Homo sapiens: one gene and its partner. The protein of the gene in region 2 interacts with the protein of the main gene of each other region in a pairwise test. Each region holds a gene or a part of one and is shown on either strand. Other genes may lie near its edges.

Evidence for each region.
Region 1: the proteins of RLF (region 2) and GCH1 interact in a two-hybrid assay, tested with the Homo sapiens proteins (one study listed by BioGRID and IntAct).

What each region holds. Positions count from the first base shown.
Region 1 is NC_000014.9:54,899,673-54,907,656, forward strand, and holds the start of GCH1 (GTP cyclohydrolase 1), read right to left. Parts: upstream 3,155-7,984; 5' UTR 2,992-3,154; coding exon 2,649-2,991; intron 1-2,648. UniProt on the Homo sapiens protein: Positively regulates nitric oxide synthesis in umbilical vein endothelial cells (HUVECs). May be involved in dopamine synthesis. May modify pain sensitivity and persistence.
Region 2 is NC_000001.11:40,234,120-40,241,393, reverse strand, and holds the end of RLF (zinc finger protein Rlf), read right to left. Parts: intron 5,603-7,274; coding exon 947-5,602; 3' UTR 473-946; downstream 1-472. UniProt on the Homo sapiens protein: May be involved in transcriptional regulation.

The DNA of each region.
Region 1 (7,984 bases), on a different chromosome or scaffold from region 2:
CCATCTTGAAGTTACAATCCAGTGGCATTCACAATATTGTGCAACTATCACCACTCTCTAGTTCCAGAACATTTTCATGACTCCAAAAGGAAGCTCCAAAGGAAGCTCCATACTCATTAAACAATCACTACCCATCCCCCTCTTCTCGCCAGTCCCTGACAACTACTAATCTTGCAGTGTCTCTACATCCATGGACTTTTTTTTTTTTTGAAATGGAGTTTAGTTCTTGTTGCCCAGGCTGGAGTGTAATGGTGCGATCTCGGCTCACTGCAACCTCCGCCTCCAGGGTTCAAATGATTCTCCTACCTCAGCTTCCTGAGTAGCTGGGATTACAGGCACCTGACACCATGCCCGGCTAATTTTTGTATTTTTGGTAGAGAATGGGTTTTCCCATGTTGGCCAGGCTGGTCTCGAACTCCTGACCTCAGGTGATCCGCCCGCCTCGGCCTCCCAAAGTGCTGGGATTACAGGTGTGAGCCACCGCGCCCGGCCCATGGACTTTTTAAATAGTAAAACTTGACCAGAACAGTTTTTTTGTTTTTTTTGTTTTTTCTGGAGACAGAGTCTCCCTCTGTCGTCCAGGCTGGAGTGCAGTGGTGCAATCTCGGCTCACTGCAACCTCCTCCTCCTGGGTTCAAGTGATTCTCCTGCCTCAGCCTCCCGAGTAGCTGGGACTACAGGCGCCCGCCATCACACCCGGCTAATTTTTTTGTATCTTTAGTAGAGACGGGGTTTCGCCATGTTGACCGGGCTGGTCTTGAACTCCTGACCTCAGGTGATCCGCCCACCTCGGCCTCCCAAAGTGCTGGGATTACAGGCGTGAGCACCGAGCTCGGCCAACCAGAACAGTTTTCTAATGTGGAATGATGTGTTCTTTGCAGTTATTAATCCTCTTTAAATGAATCTTCGCTCATGAGATATTTCAGCTAACCATTTCTCAAGTAAATCTGTGAGTCACTTTAGATAATTCTGTGACCTGTCTCAGGGTCAGAAATTCCTCTCTCTTTGGGTAATTAGATCCATGCTAGATTACAGAACACTGTCCTATGAATTCTCTTTAAGGGAGGATTCCCAAAGCCTGGCCGATGCTGTGAAGTAAACCACTTTCTGTGTCTGCAAGGGGCAAAATGAGTAAGGCCTTAAGAAGACATTTCATTACATTGTGAAATATCTCACACACACACACACACACACACACACACACACACACACACACAAATTTAAAGCCCTAGACCTCCAAAGAGCTGATCCCACAGAAAACTGAAAGTTTATTTTTCAGTCTTTGTATTTTGAAATCTCTTCTGAGATTCCAAACTTTTGCAATTGAGGGGTAAAAAAAAGTGAATTTGGAAACAGAACTAGAAGTCACTGCCGGTTTTAGAGTGTAGCATCATTTCCTTTTGGGGCCCCGTCTCTTTCACATTCTGATTTCCCACCCTTCCTTTGGGGTGTGGAAGACTGGGCAAAAAATAACTTTCTTTTTCCCAGGGTCTATTTGGTGGAATCGCTCTACACTCCTTCAGAGAAATAACTGGGGCAGGGAGATTGCCTTTCCAGCGCACTGTTTTTCTTTCAAAAAACAGTGAACGGTAGAATGCTTCTTAGGGCAAATAAATAAATGTCACCAAGACACACGGAAGGTGTAGACTGGAAAATAATGTCTTTGGTCCCAGCTGTAGAAGCCAGAAGCTTTATTTTTTTAAACACAGACCAATACTGCTTCTCTGGCCAACAGGCAGCAAAGTCCCCATTTTCCACTCTCCATCACCCCATCTTGCATCCTACCCACACTGATTGCATCCCCACCCTCTGGGTGAAAAGCCGACACGCCTCAGACGCTAACAGCACCGGGTCAACCCGGCTTTATTTTAGGGTGGGAGGGTGCGGGGATGAGACTGAGTCCTGGAACCCACGGAGCCCTCCGAATCCCGGAGTAGCTTTACTGCTTTTTGCGGGGTTGGGGGTGGGGGGAGGAAACAGATTTCAGCAGCAAACTCACCCAATCAACCTCACACCTCAAACTCCGGGGAAGCCCGTGCCCAAAATTGTGCCGAATTTTGTAAATGTCCTGAACTGGAGTAAACTTGAGGTGGACAAAAAAAAAAGCACAACTCTAAGACTCCGATCCCCTGGCAAATCAGTGGGAATGCAGGTCCCCGAGGTTTCGGGGAAGGATCGCGCCGAGGCTTCAATCCAGATACACACCCTGACAATGGGATCTCAATAAGGAACTACCCAGGAAGCCGTCGCCGCAGCAAGTGCCCAGGTGATCCTTATCGTGGGCAAGTTTGGAACCGCAGGTACCCCGAGAATCCCGCGCTGGGCGCTCAGGCGAGAGGGCTCCGGGCTCCCGTCCACGCCCACCCGGGGCGTTCTAGGAGGGCTGCGCGCTGGGAGCGGGAAGGGCCCCTGGAAGGCGGCTGCAGCGAGTTCCGGGGCTGAGAGGTCGCTGCCACCCAGGAAGCCCCGACTGTGCCCCACGCAGGGCCTCGGCAGGGCGGCAGGCTAGGGCGGGTTCGGAGGTGACAGCGCCCGGCTTCCTGCGCCAAAAGTGAGGCAACTCCGGAAACTTCCTGGAGCCGGCGCGCGTTTCCTGCAAGCACCGCCCCCGCCGCCCGCACGCTCTAGCAGCCCGCGGGCGCACTGACCTGAGATGGTCTCCTGGTAGCCCTTGGTGAAGAACTGCATGGCCGAGGCCGCCCTCCAGGGCGTCTTGAGCAGCCCTTGCCGCTGGGGGTTCTCGCCCAGCGAGCTCAGGATGGACGAGTAGGCGGCTGCCAGGTTAGGGAGGTTCAGCTCGTTATCCTCCTCGCTGCGGGGCCGCTCGCCCTTCCAGCCGTCCGCGGGCTGCGCGCTCTTGGCCTCGGGCCGCGGGGGCTTCTCCGCCGGCCTGCTGGGCCCGGGCCGCGGCGGATCCCGCTCGGGGAACCCATTGCTGCACCTGGCGCCCCGCGGCTTCTCCGCCGGTGCCCGCACAGGGCCCTTCTCCATGGACCCGCCGCAGCCGCTGCCGTTCGGGAAGGACCCCGGGGCGCTTCGAGGTCTGCGGCTAAACTCCGCCGGTGGCCGCGGACAATGGGCTGTGGCCGGAGTCACCTGAGGAAGGTACGCAACCTGCTTAGATCACACTCCGAGCCGGGAGCGGCCACAGGCTGGAAAGCCCGGCCGCGCCTCCTTTTTATGGCCCGGCGGCTCAGCCTGCGCCGCGGAGCGCTCCCATTGGCCGGCCCCGCCTCGCGTCACGGCCCTCGCCGCGCCCCTCGGCCTCCCGCCCCCGGGGTCCCCAGCAGGGGTCGCGGCTCCGGAGACGCCCGGAGGGGTTCGCAAGCGCAGGGAGGGAAGGAAAAGGGCGCCGGCCCCTAGGATCAGGCGGGACCCCTCCACTTATTGCGGAATGAGCCGAACCCGAAAAGAGGCAGTCGTCCAGGAGCTGGGATCTCAGTGAGAAAGACGCGGTCTGGGCGCCCAGTCGCCCCCTCTTCAGGCCAAGAGGGCGCTGCATTGAAGGGCTCCGGTCCCCTCGCCCTGTGAAAGATCAGCAAACAGGTGGCCTTGCCTGGAGAGAGACCGAGTTAAGCCACCGATTAGGAACCAACTCTTAAGCTTTCAAGGCAAGAGAATAATGTGACTTCAGACTCTTGGGTTTAGTTAAAAACGCACCTGCCACCTAGGGGCCAGGTGGCACCGCTGTCGGGGCAAGTGTCACATCAAGTGGCCCTTATGTGGGTCCCTATGTCTAGAAGGATAGGATTTATGGTTGCTAGAACTTTGATCCTGGAAAAATTGATTTGCAAACGAAGATAGGACTTTCACTTAAAATCCATTTCCGTCGGTGGCTCACGCCTGTACTCCCGGCGCTTGGGGAGACCGAGGCGGGAGGATCGCTTGAGGCCAAGAGTTCGAGACCAGCCTGGAAAACATAGCAAGACCTCATCTCTATAAAACCCATCGCATTTTCTAGAAACGCAGTTGTGCAGATTTGGTGCTCAATTGTTTTACAGTTCCATGCAAAGCGTCTTTCCCCAGATGTTGGTACAAATTGTGAAATGCTATTCACCAACTGAACTCTTAACCAGTGACATCTGCTGTAACTGTTTTCTTTGAGATTAATAAATGGACCTTTTTCCTCACTTGAGGGATTATCTCATAATGCCGAAGGTGAGCTTTAAAACATGTATCAAAATAATATTTTTTTTCTTTTTTTTTTTTTGAGGCTCACTTCATCCTCCGCCTCCTGGGTTCAAACGATTCTCCTGCCTCAGCCTCCTGAGTAGCTGGGATTACAGGCACCTGCCACCATGCCCGGCTAAATTTTTGTATTTTTAGGAGAGGTGGGGTTTTGCCATGTTGGCCAGGCTGGTCTCGAACTCCTGACCTCAGGTGATCCACCTGCCTCGGCCTCCCAAAGTGCTGGGATTACAGGTGTGAGCCACCATGCCTGGCCTAATGTAGATTTTCTGACATAGAAGCAGGTATTAATAGGCTTAGGATCAAACAAACCAATAGGGAAGCCTGTGGAATTATTCTATGCTAACAATGTAGCTTGGTCATTATAATAAGTAATTAGTATTTATGATACATCTGCTCTAGGCGCAGCCCCGTTGGAAACATTCAGGAAAGAAATATGGACATTGCCTAGCCTTGTAGGCACCTTTACTCCAAAATGGAAGAAATGTTCATATCAGTGGGGTTATTTATTTATTTATTTATTTATTTATTTATTTATTTTTAAATTTTAATCTATTTATTTAAGAGCGGGTTATGAGACTGGCTAATTTTTGTATTTTTGGTAGAGATAAGGTTTCACCATGTTGCCAAAGCTGGTCTCGAACTCCAGGGCTCAGGATTATAGGCCTGAGCCACCGTACCCGGCCCAGTGGGGTTTTTAAATAGAGAATATGAACATCCTTTGGAAAACCTCTTTGTCATTTTCCTCTTTATTAAAATTTTTAAATTTTTTATTGTAGGTTTTTATTGGGAGTGGGGCCCTGCAACATTTTTTTCCTCTAACTGTGCTGCCCACTGTCTGCTGATACCTCCTGGTCAGAATTATCTGCTGGGTCTCAAGCTATTTCAAGCATAGTTGAAGACAACATTCAAAGGATGACCTTGCATTTAACAAATGAAAACAAAGATACTAAGTGAGGTACTTTAAAAATGGAGAGAGTAGATAGAGATGCTTTCAGTACGAATTTATTTTTAGTGGCAATCTTTCGTCTTCCTTTAAAAACATGTGTAAAGATTAACTAATATTGTATTCCACAAAGACAGTTTCTAATGAAATTTTTACCCTAAAAATTAACATTTTCTTACACGTATTGCCACTGAGGCACCTGCACCTTTGTTGCAGGACAGGGCCTCTGGATACATGCTAACTTGTAAAATGGAGGCAGTGCCTTTCGGCCAAATGCCCAAAAATAATACAAGAAAACTTTGAAATCACCAACATTATATGAATAATTTAATAGTAAAATGTAGATAGTTGACAAGGATGGTTATAAGTAGCAACAGGAGAAAAAAAGAGGAATAAACCAAAAGGGAAGTAGGTCCCAGATAATTTATTAGCATAAAATGGTTCAACAGTAATATTATGAGCATTTACAGCCAGGAATTGTTACCGCATCCATGTTTTTCACCCAGTAAGGGATTCATTTTCAGCTTGGACCCAGTCTGGGAGTTTCTTTCTACCAAAAAGCCAAGGAATTTTTTAAAGTCTCTAATTTCTAGGACAGCAGCAGAACAAAGAGGCAGATGAGAAAGACACACCAAGTCAGAGACTGAACACTGCAGTGCTACAGAAATGTACAAAGAGTTGTTTGCCAAGTGTGATATGATGATACATGTATATGTAGGTTTTCAGCCATAGTACCTGGTTCATAACTCACAGTCTTTTGTTACAATGTTGGGGCACTTTAGGCCTCAGAAAATAGAATCAATCTCTCTCTCTCTCTCTCTCTCTCTCTCTCTCACCTTCTGCTCCCCTTCCACTCACTAAAGGCAGGACTCTAATCATCTCCCGCCTTTCTGATTACGGATCATAAACCCTCATTGCAAACAGGGTCCTGCCTCATACCCTGGAGGAAGCATGGCTGCACAGAGAGGTCAATCACACCTTGACACGGCTGTCCATGCTTCAATCATGCCTATACAACGAACATAAAAGGCCCAGACGGCAGGGCTCAGGGAGGTTTTGGACAGCTGAATATGTGGAGGTTCCTGGAGGGTGGTGTGCCCAGGGAGGGCATGGAAACTCCATACCTCTTACCCCATACCTCACCCTATGCATCTTTTCATCTGTATCTTTTGTAATATCCTTCATAATAAACTGGTAAACGTAAGTGTTTCCCTGAGTTCTTTGAGTCACTCTAGCAAATTAATTGAACCCAAAGAGGGGGTTGTGGAAACCCCAACTTGAAGCCAGTCAATCAAAAGTTCCAGAGGCCCAGACTTGTGAGTGGTGGAAAGGAGGGGCCAGTGTTGGGGACTGAGCCTTCAACTTGTGGGATCTACAGCTATCTCCAGGTAGGCAGAATCAGAATTGAATTAAATAAGAGGGAGGACACCTAGCTGATGTCCCCTGCTTGGTGTGTGGGAGAAAACCCCCACCCATTTGGTCACAGAGTCTTCTGTGTTGACTGTTGTTGTGGTATAACAGCAGAAGAAAACCACAGTTTCAATTTGTCCAAACACCAAGGGTAATAGACAAACTAACATTGGGTATTTGGCAACAGTAATTGGAAAAAAGCAAATTTAAGTGAACTTGATGGAGGCTCTATACTTGAAATTCAAACTCTGGAGGAGATTTTGGATCAAGGTAGAAAGGTACAAAGAAAAGGTGGCCGGGCATGGTGACCCAAGCCCGTAATCCCAGCACTTTGGAAGGCCAAGGCAGGTGAATCATTTGAGGTCAGTAGTTCAAGAATAGCCTGGCCAACGTGATGGAACCCCGTCTCTAATAAAAAATACAAAAATTAGCCGGGCATGATGGTAGGCACCTGTAGTCCCAGCTACTCAGGAGGCTGAGGCAGAAGAATCATTTGAATCTGGGAGGCAGAGGTTCCAGTGAGCCAAGATCACGCCACTGCACCCCAGCCTGGATGACACAGCGAGACTCCATCTCAAAAAAAAAAAAGGCCCAAGAGCCTCATATTGAGTATAATAAGCCATCCAAAGCCTAAATGTACCCATAAAGGATACCCTAACAGACATGTGTCCCTGGTAGAGAATCTGCAATACCATCTCAGAAGAACAGGCAGATGCTAAGAGGGATGCTAATAGAAAGTGCACCTCAGCGCTGCTGAACTCTGTCCCTGCCTCCACATTACCCCAGAAGAAGGGATGCAACACAGCTCCTCAAGCTCCAGACTGCAGCAGAGTCAGGAAAACAAAAGGGCTTCTGTTATCATGGAAAAACCTGAAGATGTCTCAACAATATCAGAGATACGCAGTGTCAGGAAACAGCCTCCCAAGCATGGGCAGGGGGCAGAGAAACAGCATGGCAACCGTGCAAACACACACCAGCCAAACAAAACAAAAGAAAACCAAGGGGGAACATCATATGGCATGCAGGAGACATAAAGGCAAATAATGCAACTAAGAAGAAAGCAAATCTCATGGAACAGAAGAAAATTCCTCACGAATGTTTGATGCCAGAGACTAACTCAATAAAAGTATAAATTCAGGCTGGGTGCAGTGGCTCATGCCTGTAATCCCAGCACTTTGGGAGGTTGAGGCAGGAAGATCACCTGAGGTCAGGAGTTCGAGACCAGCCTGGCAAACATGGTGAAACGCTGTCTGTATTAAAAATACAAAAATTAGCCAGCGTGGTGGGCACCTGTAATCTCAGCTACTTGGGAGGCTGAGGCAGGAGAATGGCTTGAACTTGGGAGGCAGAGGTTGCAGTAAGCTGAGATCACGCCACTGCACTCCAGCCTGGGCAACAGAGCGAGACTCAGTCTAAAAAAAACAGACAAACAAACAAAAA
Region 2 (7,274 bases):
TCTGAATTTGCTACGTCCTTCATGTTCTAGGTTGGCATATCCTCTCCTTTCTACTCGGCCAACATCTGGACATCCTCTGGGAGCTATCTTGACTCCCGCAGCTAATTAATCTCAGAATTATCTTTCCACAAAAACAAAAATTTTAAGATAAAAAGAACCTTGTTCTGGGATGGGCACGGTGGCTCATGCCTGTAATCCCAGCACTTTGGGAGGCCGGGGCAGGAGAATAACTTGAACCTGGGAGGAGGAGGTTGCAGTGAGTCGAGACTGCACCATTGCACTCCAGCTTGGGCAACAAGAACGAAACTCTGTCTTAAAAAAAAAAAAAAAAAAAAGAACCTTGTTCTGAATGATTTAGCTAATAATAAATAAAAAAATTACTGGGGTAAAATGTGAATGGCATATTTCAGAAAATACAAGTGCAATTTCAGTTTACATGTGGCATGAAAGCTCATTATGAGTAAACAACGAATGGGTGAAAAATTGTAATTTATTGAAACTCAACTCAAAAAATATAAGATGCTGTAGTGTACAATATATTACACAAAGCACCCTCAGGTGCACATTCAAGTCAAGTAAGAACTCCATATCCCTTTCCCTAGCCCTCCCACCCTGGGACCTTAGTATTTGTTCCATATACAATCATGCACACTTAATTTGAAAAAGGAAGCCCCAGTATATTTTGATGTATTAATTAGCACCAAACAAGTGTACAGTTCCATTTTTTTAATAAACAAACAAACAAAAATAAACCCAATCATTAAACCAACTGGAGAGCTAATGGACTCAGCCAATACTGCTGACATAGATATTATACATTCATGTAAATACACAGCCTATTCTACCCTAAACAACGGTGTGGCTGCTTCTCAGCCTTTGTTCGAGTTGGCAAATGTCCCCATGTTGCAGTGTTGGAGCCAGTCTGTTACTAAAACAAAATTGCTACTTATGAACTTCCTACACAAAGCTCATCTGTCTTTTTTGTTGGAAATAAGTCTAAAATTGGTGTGGAAAACTTAGATCTTTCAAGAACCACCACTGGCCGAAGATAATGAAGCTGTTTTAAGGCAAGCTCTCCACAGTCTGTTAATGCTTTGTCCAATACAACCCTCAGGTTTTCCAAGGAAGGAACTGTTGTTGTTTCAGCTACTATTAAAGGTGGGATTGCAGTCAGGTTCTCATGAATTGTAGAGTCACTGGAAGAATGAGGTATGTCAACTTCAGGTTCACTGTCATTCACCATATTATTTGCCACAACATTCCCTGTTAAATCATTACTGGACTGTGAAGAATTACTTAATGTTAAGTGCTCTGAAGGCTCCCAATCATCAAAATCATCTTCTTTCTCTTCACTTTCCTGAATAAATTTCAGAAATGAAGATTCAAATCCCATAGGTTTGTAAGTCTTCAAATCAAATGACCGGGGCTGTGAATGTTTCCTAAAATTCTCTTTTGGGACATGGGTTGGATTTTTTACAGTGTTTTCTTGCCCTGAACTATGCTGCCTAGTTTCTGATTCTTTGATCCTTGGTAAAGGCAGCTGGAAACTTGTGAAATAAGTCCCACTTTCAGTCCCATTGGGATTAGGTATGGAATTTTCTATTTTACAAGGAGGAGGAGGCTGAACTATATTACACTGTTCTAGGGAAGTGGTTTTGGAACTATGATTACATTTCAAAGTTCCCCTGTAGAGCAGAGTATCTGCATCAAATACTGAGCTGCTTTCTATGCACCCTTTCTGACCTCCATCCCTTTCACTTGAATGACAGCAATCAGTGTTCTGGATGGGTGCACTACTGTCACCCGGGGAATGGCTGTGTTCTGTGCGCTCTGATTCACAGCTTCTATTTTCTTCTTTCTTTATACAGGGATCTGCTTCAGAAGGGGGTTCCTCCTTAATTTTGGTACCGTACTTAACGCAAACAACAAGATTCTCCATCTGTTGCTCTAAATAGGCACTACTCATCTGATGAGTGCGTTTGTAATGCCTCACAATGCTGCTCTCCAACTTCACCACAGATAAGCATCCTTGAACCATGCAGGGGTACTGTGTGTGCTCAGAGTGCTCCACACACATATGGAGGGCCTCAGCTCTGGTTTTAAAACTTATTGGGGCTTTCTTTTCTTTGATTAAGCCACATTTTTTAGACTTAGCATTAAATGATCTCCTGGTGGTCTGATGTTCATGCCCCTGAGTATCAGCTGTTTGACATACCTTTTCACTCCTTAGTAGTCTCTCATTTGCTACTTTCTGGCTTCTAAACAAATCATCATAATAGTCTTTATGTCGGTAATATACATGTTGTGAGTAATTACTGCGATGGGTGAAAATCTGGCCACAGCCATTAAGATCACAATGAATTTCATAATCTGAATGTATTTCCCCTTCAATATTATGCTGTTCCATCAAGTGGTGCTTCAACTTGTTGAATGTATAAAAAACAGCAGGGCACTGAGGCTGGTTACAAGAAAACCTTGCTGCAGATCCAGCTTCGGAAAGTACTTTAGGCTCTTCAATATGGTCTAGGTTATGAGAATCACTACAGTGCTTAGCAAGAGCTTTGGAACACAGGAAGCGTTTATTACATTCCTTATATTTGCAAGCAAATATCTTTTTACATTTGACAAGTTCCCTTTTGGTTCTTGCTTTGTCTTTCTCCAAACATAACTGTTCTTTGTTGTACTGATGTACAGTTCTGTAATGGCGAATTAAGCCTTTTAGATTGGTGAATGAGGAGTTGCAAGTTTTATGAATACAATGGAATGGTTTGTGGTATTTATTCAAAATATAACACAGATTTCCTTTAGCAACAGTTCGCCTGCTACCTCTGCCCTCTCTTCCTTCTTGTTCTTCTCTATGGCTGCCTATTGGTGATGAAATGTCAGATGTTTTACTTTCTGTTTCTTCACAAGATGATTCCAAATCTGTTTCAGAACTACATTCATCCTTTTTAGGATGACAGTGTGGTTTCTCAGAGTTACTACTGGGATCACCTCCAAGTTCTGCAGAACAATCACCTTTCAACCTATCTACTGAACATGGGCCTTCATGATCACACTTTTCATTATCTAATAGTTTGTGAGTTGCTCTGTCACTGCCAATTTGATGTTTATTTTTATAATGAATCCTAAGGTGTGTTTTTCTTGTAAATGACCTTTGGCAAATATGACACTGAAATGGGGAATACCGATGTTGGAACATGGTTAACTGAAGGACTTTTTCTTTTGAATAATTATGCTTTTTAAGATAATGCATTAACAGAGCCTCTCTGGTCACAAATTCATATTTGCATCCTTGAAGCTCACAGAAAAACGGCTTAGCCGCCAACTGTGCAAGGTACTGACTTGGCATGTTTTCATCTTGATTCTGAAAATTAAGGTCTGAGATAGATGAAACTGACTGAAGAGACTTAGCACCACTGGATGGGTACCCCTGCAATGACCCTGAGAAAGATCCATGTGTTATTGAGTTTTTCAAGCTTAAATGTTTCAAGCGTAACAGAAGTTCCAACATGGTATCCTCTGTACAGGGCCTTTTAGAAGCACAAATGGAGGATTCTGAGGAATAACCTTGATGTTCTCGTTTACATTTAATGTGAATATTGTGATCTAGACCTTCATCTGGGGAGTCACTGTTTGTATCTGAGCAGGGTTTAGGTTCTGCATCCAACTTTTCAGTTGTCTGATTATGTTCATTACCCAAAGAGGGAAACAGATCTTTCGTCTTTATCTTTTTGGGCTTGAAATGGTATGGATGAACCTTCCGTAAATGTTTCTGCATTCCTCTTGCATTTTTGTATGTGGAACCACAGCCATCAAAACCACAGGTAAACTTAGTCCCGTCAAAACAAACTGCCATACTGGAACATTTTTCTTTTAAACTGGAGGGCCCAAAGACTTTCTCATTAGATAACAATACATCCTGCATAGTTTCAGAGTGATCTAGTGTGTCAATTAGCTCTTCATTCATTGAAGCTGAAGAGCTATGACTTAACTGATCACTAGAATTACTGTCACTGTTTTCTTTCAGGTTTTCTGCAGTTTCTGTATCTATTTGAGAATTAGCTGATTCTGCACAGAAAAGATCTTCAGGTAAATGTGATTTATCAGTTTGGTTAAGTAGATGGGGCTGATTAATACAATCTTGCTTTTCACCTGTTGCAGACTCCTCAAGTTTCACTGATTTCTTTATGTCTCCATTTGAATTTTCAACATTATGCATTGAGAGGTGATTCTGGTATTCAATTTTGGAGTAATAGAACTTTTTACAGCCAAGGAAGTTGCATGTGTAAGATGCATCCCTAAAGTGTTGTGCTTCATGGTGGTAAAGCTGTCCCAAGTCACTGAAAACAATATTACAGCCATTTAATTCACATTTGTAACGCAGATCGTCATGCTTTTGTTTATGGTTAAGTAGTTCATTTACTGATCCAAACCTAGCATAGCAATCTATAGATACACACATATAAGGCTGAGGCCCACAATGCACTTGTTCGTGCTCTCGAAGGTGAAAAGCAGACATAAAATGTCGTCGACAGTAAGTACACTTCTCTCTTCTATTTTTCATATCCAAGTAGTGCTTGGCATTTTCATCATTATTTTGGTGTTCAGCTTTAAGATGCACACTTAAGTATTTAAATTGCTTAAACACACGGGAACAGTCTGTACCGGGACATGGATACAAATCTCTGTCTTGCAGGTGGCAATCTTCTAATTTGCTGAATGTGACATATTCATGAGACTCTCCTTTGGCTTGGTCATTCAATGAATGGTTTTGCTCTGGGATTGCAGAGGGGCTCTTAGGACAAATACCCTTTTGAGAGCCTTTTAACAGTAATTTCTTTTTAGAGCGGTCCCTTCTGCTTGGTGGCATTTTAACATGCTCCATCACATGAGGAACAAACATTTCTTTTCTCTTAAATTTTTTAATACAAACTGGACAGGTGTAAATTCCATCTTCCATATGCATCTTAGAATGATGAAGAATTCTAGCCTCTATACATTCCCGCTTACATAACAAACAGAAAAACTTGTACTGAAGCCACCTCTGATATCTTTCAGAAGAGCCAATAGGTTTTTTGTCTCTTTTCTCCTTATGCTGATCTGTCAAATCTCTTCTTCTATATTGTTTATCTTCTTTACCCTCATCATAGTCACTGAGAAATGACTCTAAAACATCTGTGTCATTAATGGACATTTCATAGCCACTTAAATCATCATCAGAATCTGAGGCTTCTTGTCCTAAAAGTTGGTGGCAGTGTCGTTTTAAAGTTTTCCAGTCCCAAAACTCAGGATCAAAAGGCCAGTGGGCTTTTAAAGCTAGTAAGAGCTCACATCGAAGAGAATTTGGAACCGGTGCATTTTCTTCATCAAATTTTTGATCTGGTTGCAAATATAGTTCTTCTAACATATTAAATCCATCCAAACTGGGTTCAATTAAGAATTCTGTAAGCTGACAGGCTCGTCTAACTTCTAAATCTTCTGGTAAAAGACAGGCAATTGTTTTACAAACTGATGCCTTCATTTCCTCATCTTCACTTGATCTGAGTTGAAGAGCTCTGACACACAGTAAAATTGACACCCCAAGACCAGCATCTTGTGCCTGTAAGTAAAAGAGGATAAAAAAATTATTTTTTTGCATACAGAAAGATTATATAACTTTCACTGATAAGGAATTTTAGCTTGTAAAAACTTTTAGAGTTCCTAAATTTTATCTTAAATCTTTCTTCATGAAAGTTACATTTAGATATTTCTTGTCTCAACATGCAAAGAACTAAATTAGATGCTACAACTACGAACAATGTACATTTACTAGGCACTGTGTATTAAAGCAGTTCCTTACTTCCAAGGAATTTATCTGTACCCCGAATGCATAAACAATAAATGCATGTGAATCCAAAGAAATTCAGGATAAAAAAGGTCACTGGAGGATTCAAAATAGAATGATGTTGAGTAGAGGGGCAGGGTTTAAAATGGCAGCAACAGGAAACACAGGTATAGATGTGAGTCTAAGATTAAATTCAATTTAAGAAATTCTCTTTGGCTGGGCACGGTGGCTCACGCCTGTAATCCCAGCACTTTGGGAGGCCGAGGCAGGTGTATCACCTGAGTTTGAGACCAGCCTGACCAACACGGAGAAACCCCGTCTCTACTAAAAATACAAAATTAGCCAGGTGTGGTGGTGCATGCCTGTAATCCCAGCTACTCGGAGGCTGAGGCAGCAGAATCGCTTGAACCCAGGAGGTGGAGGTTGCAGTTTAGCCAAGATCACACCATTGCACTCCAGCCTGGGCAACAAGAGCAAAACTCCGTCTCAAAAAAAAAAAAAAAAAAAAAAATTCTCTCTATCATGAACACTTGGATTTTTCAAAACTTCAAAGATAAAATAAATGATCCTTTCCATTTCCTCCTGAAAGAATCTGGTAATTTATAGTCACCGTCACAGGTGTACTGAATCTCAGCTTTCCAGGGAAAAAACAGAAATCAGAAATCTTGCTATGGCAGCAGGTTCTCAGAAACTAGTTTAAAATTAGGAAGACCTGGTCATATGTGATAAAAGCTTGGTACATACAAGATAACTCTTTTTATCTGAGAGGCTGAAATAAAATACAAAAATGACATGAGCAAAGAAAAGCAAGATATGTCAGAGTGGCTTAAAACGCACTGCTATGAGCAGAGACTTTAGAATCAGACTTTGACTGCCTTTGAACCCCAGCTTCACAACAAGTGACAAGTTCTCAACCTCTAAACTTCAGTTTCCTTATTGGTAAAATGATAACAGTAATGTTAATAACAGATTTTCCTCCTAAGGTTATAAAGATGAAATAATAACGCTGGCACATTGTAACTATTTAACAGAATACAATGTAAAATAATGGAGTAAATTCCACTGTTTAAATCAGTAAACAATTTGCCAGGCATTTAATTCTGTGTTGGGCATCATTCATTCTAAATGCTGGGAACACAAAGAAATCACTGTCATTGATTTACAGAACCCCTACTACAGCCTAGGCACTTATTTGAAATAAACTTTTTTGCACGTATTATCCTCATTTTATAGACAAAAAACCCCCAACACTCAGAACGTTAAGTTGCCCAATGTCACTAACTAGTGAGCAGAGGAGCAAGGACTTAAAAGCATTTAGGCCGGGCACAGTGGCTCACACCTGTAATCCCAGCACTTTGGGAGGCCGAGGCAGGCACATCACTTGAGGCATGGAGTTTAAGACCAGCAGGGCCAACATGGCAAAACCCCATTTCTAATAAAAATACAA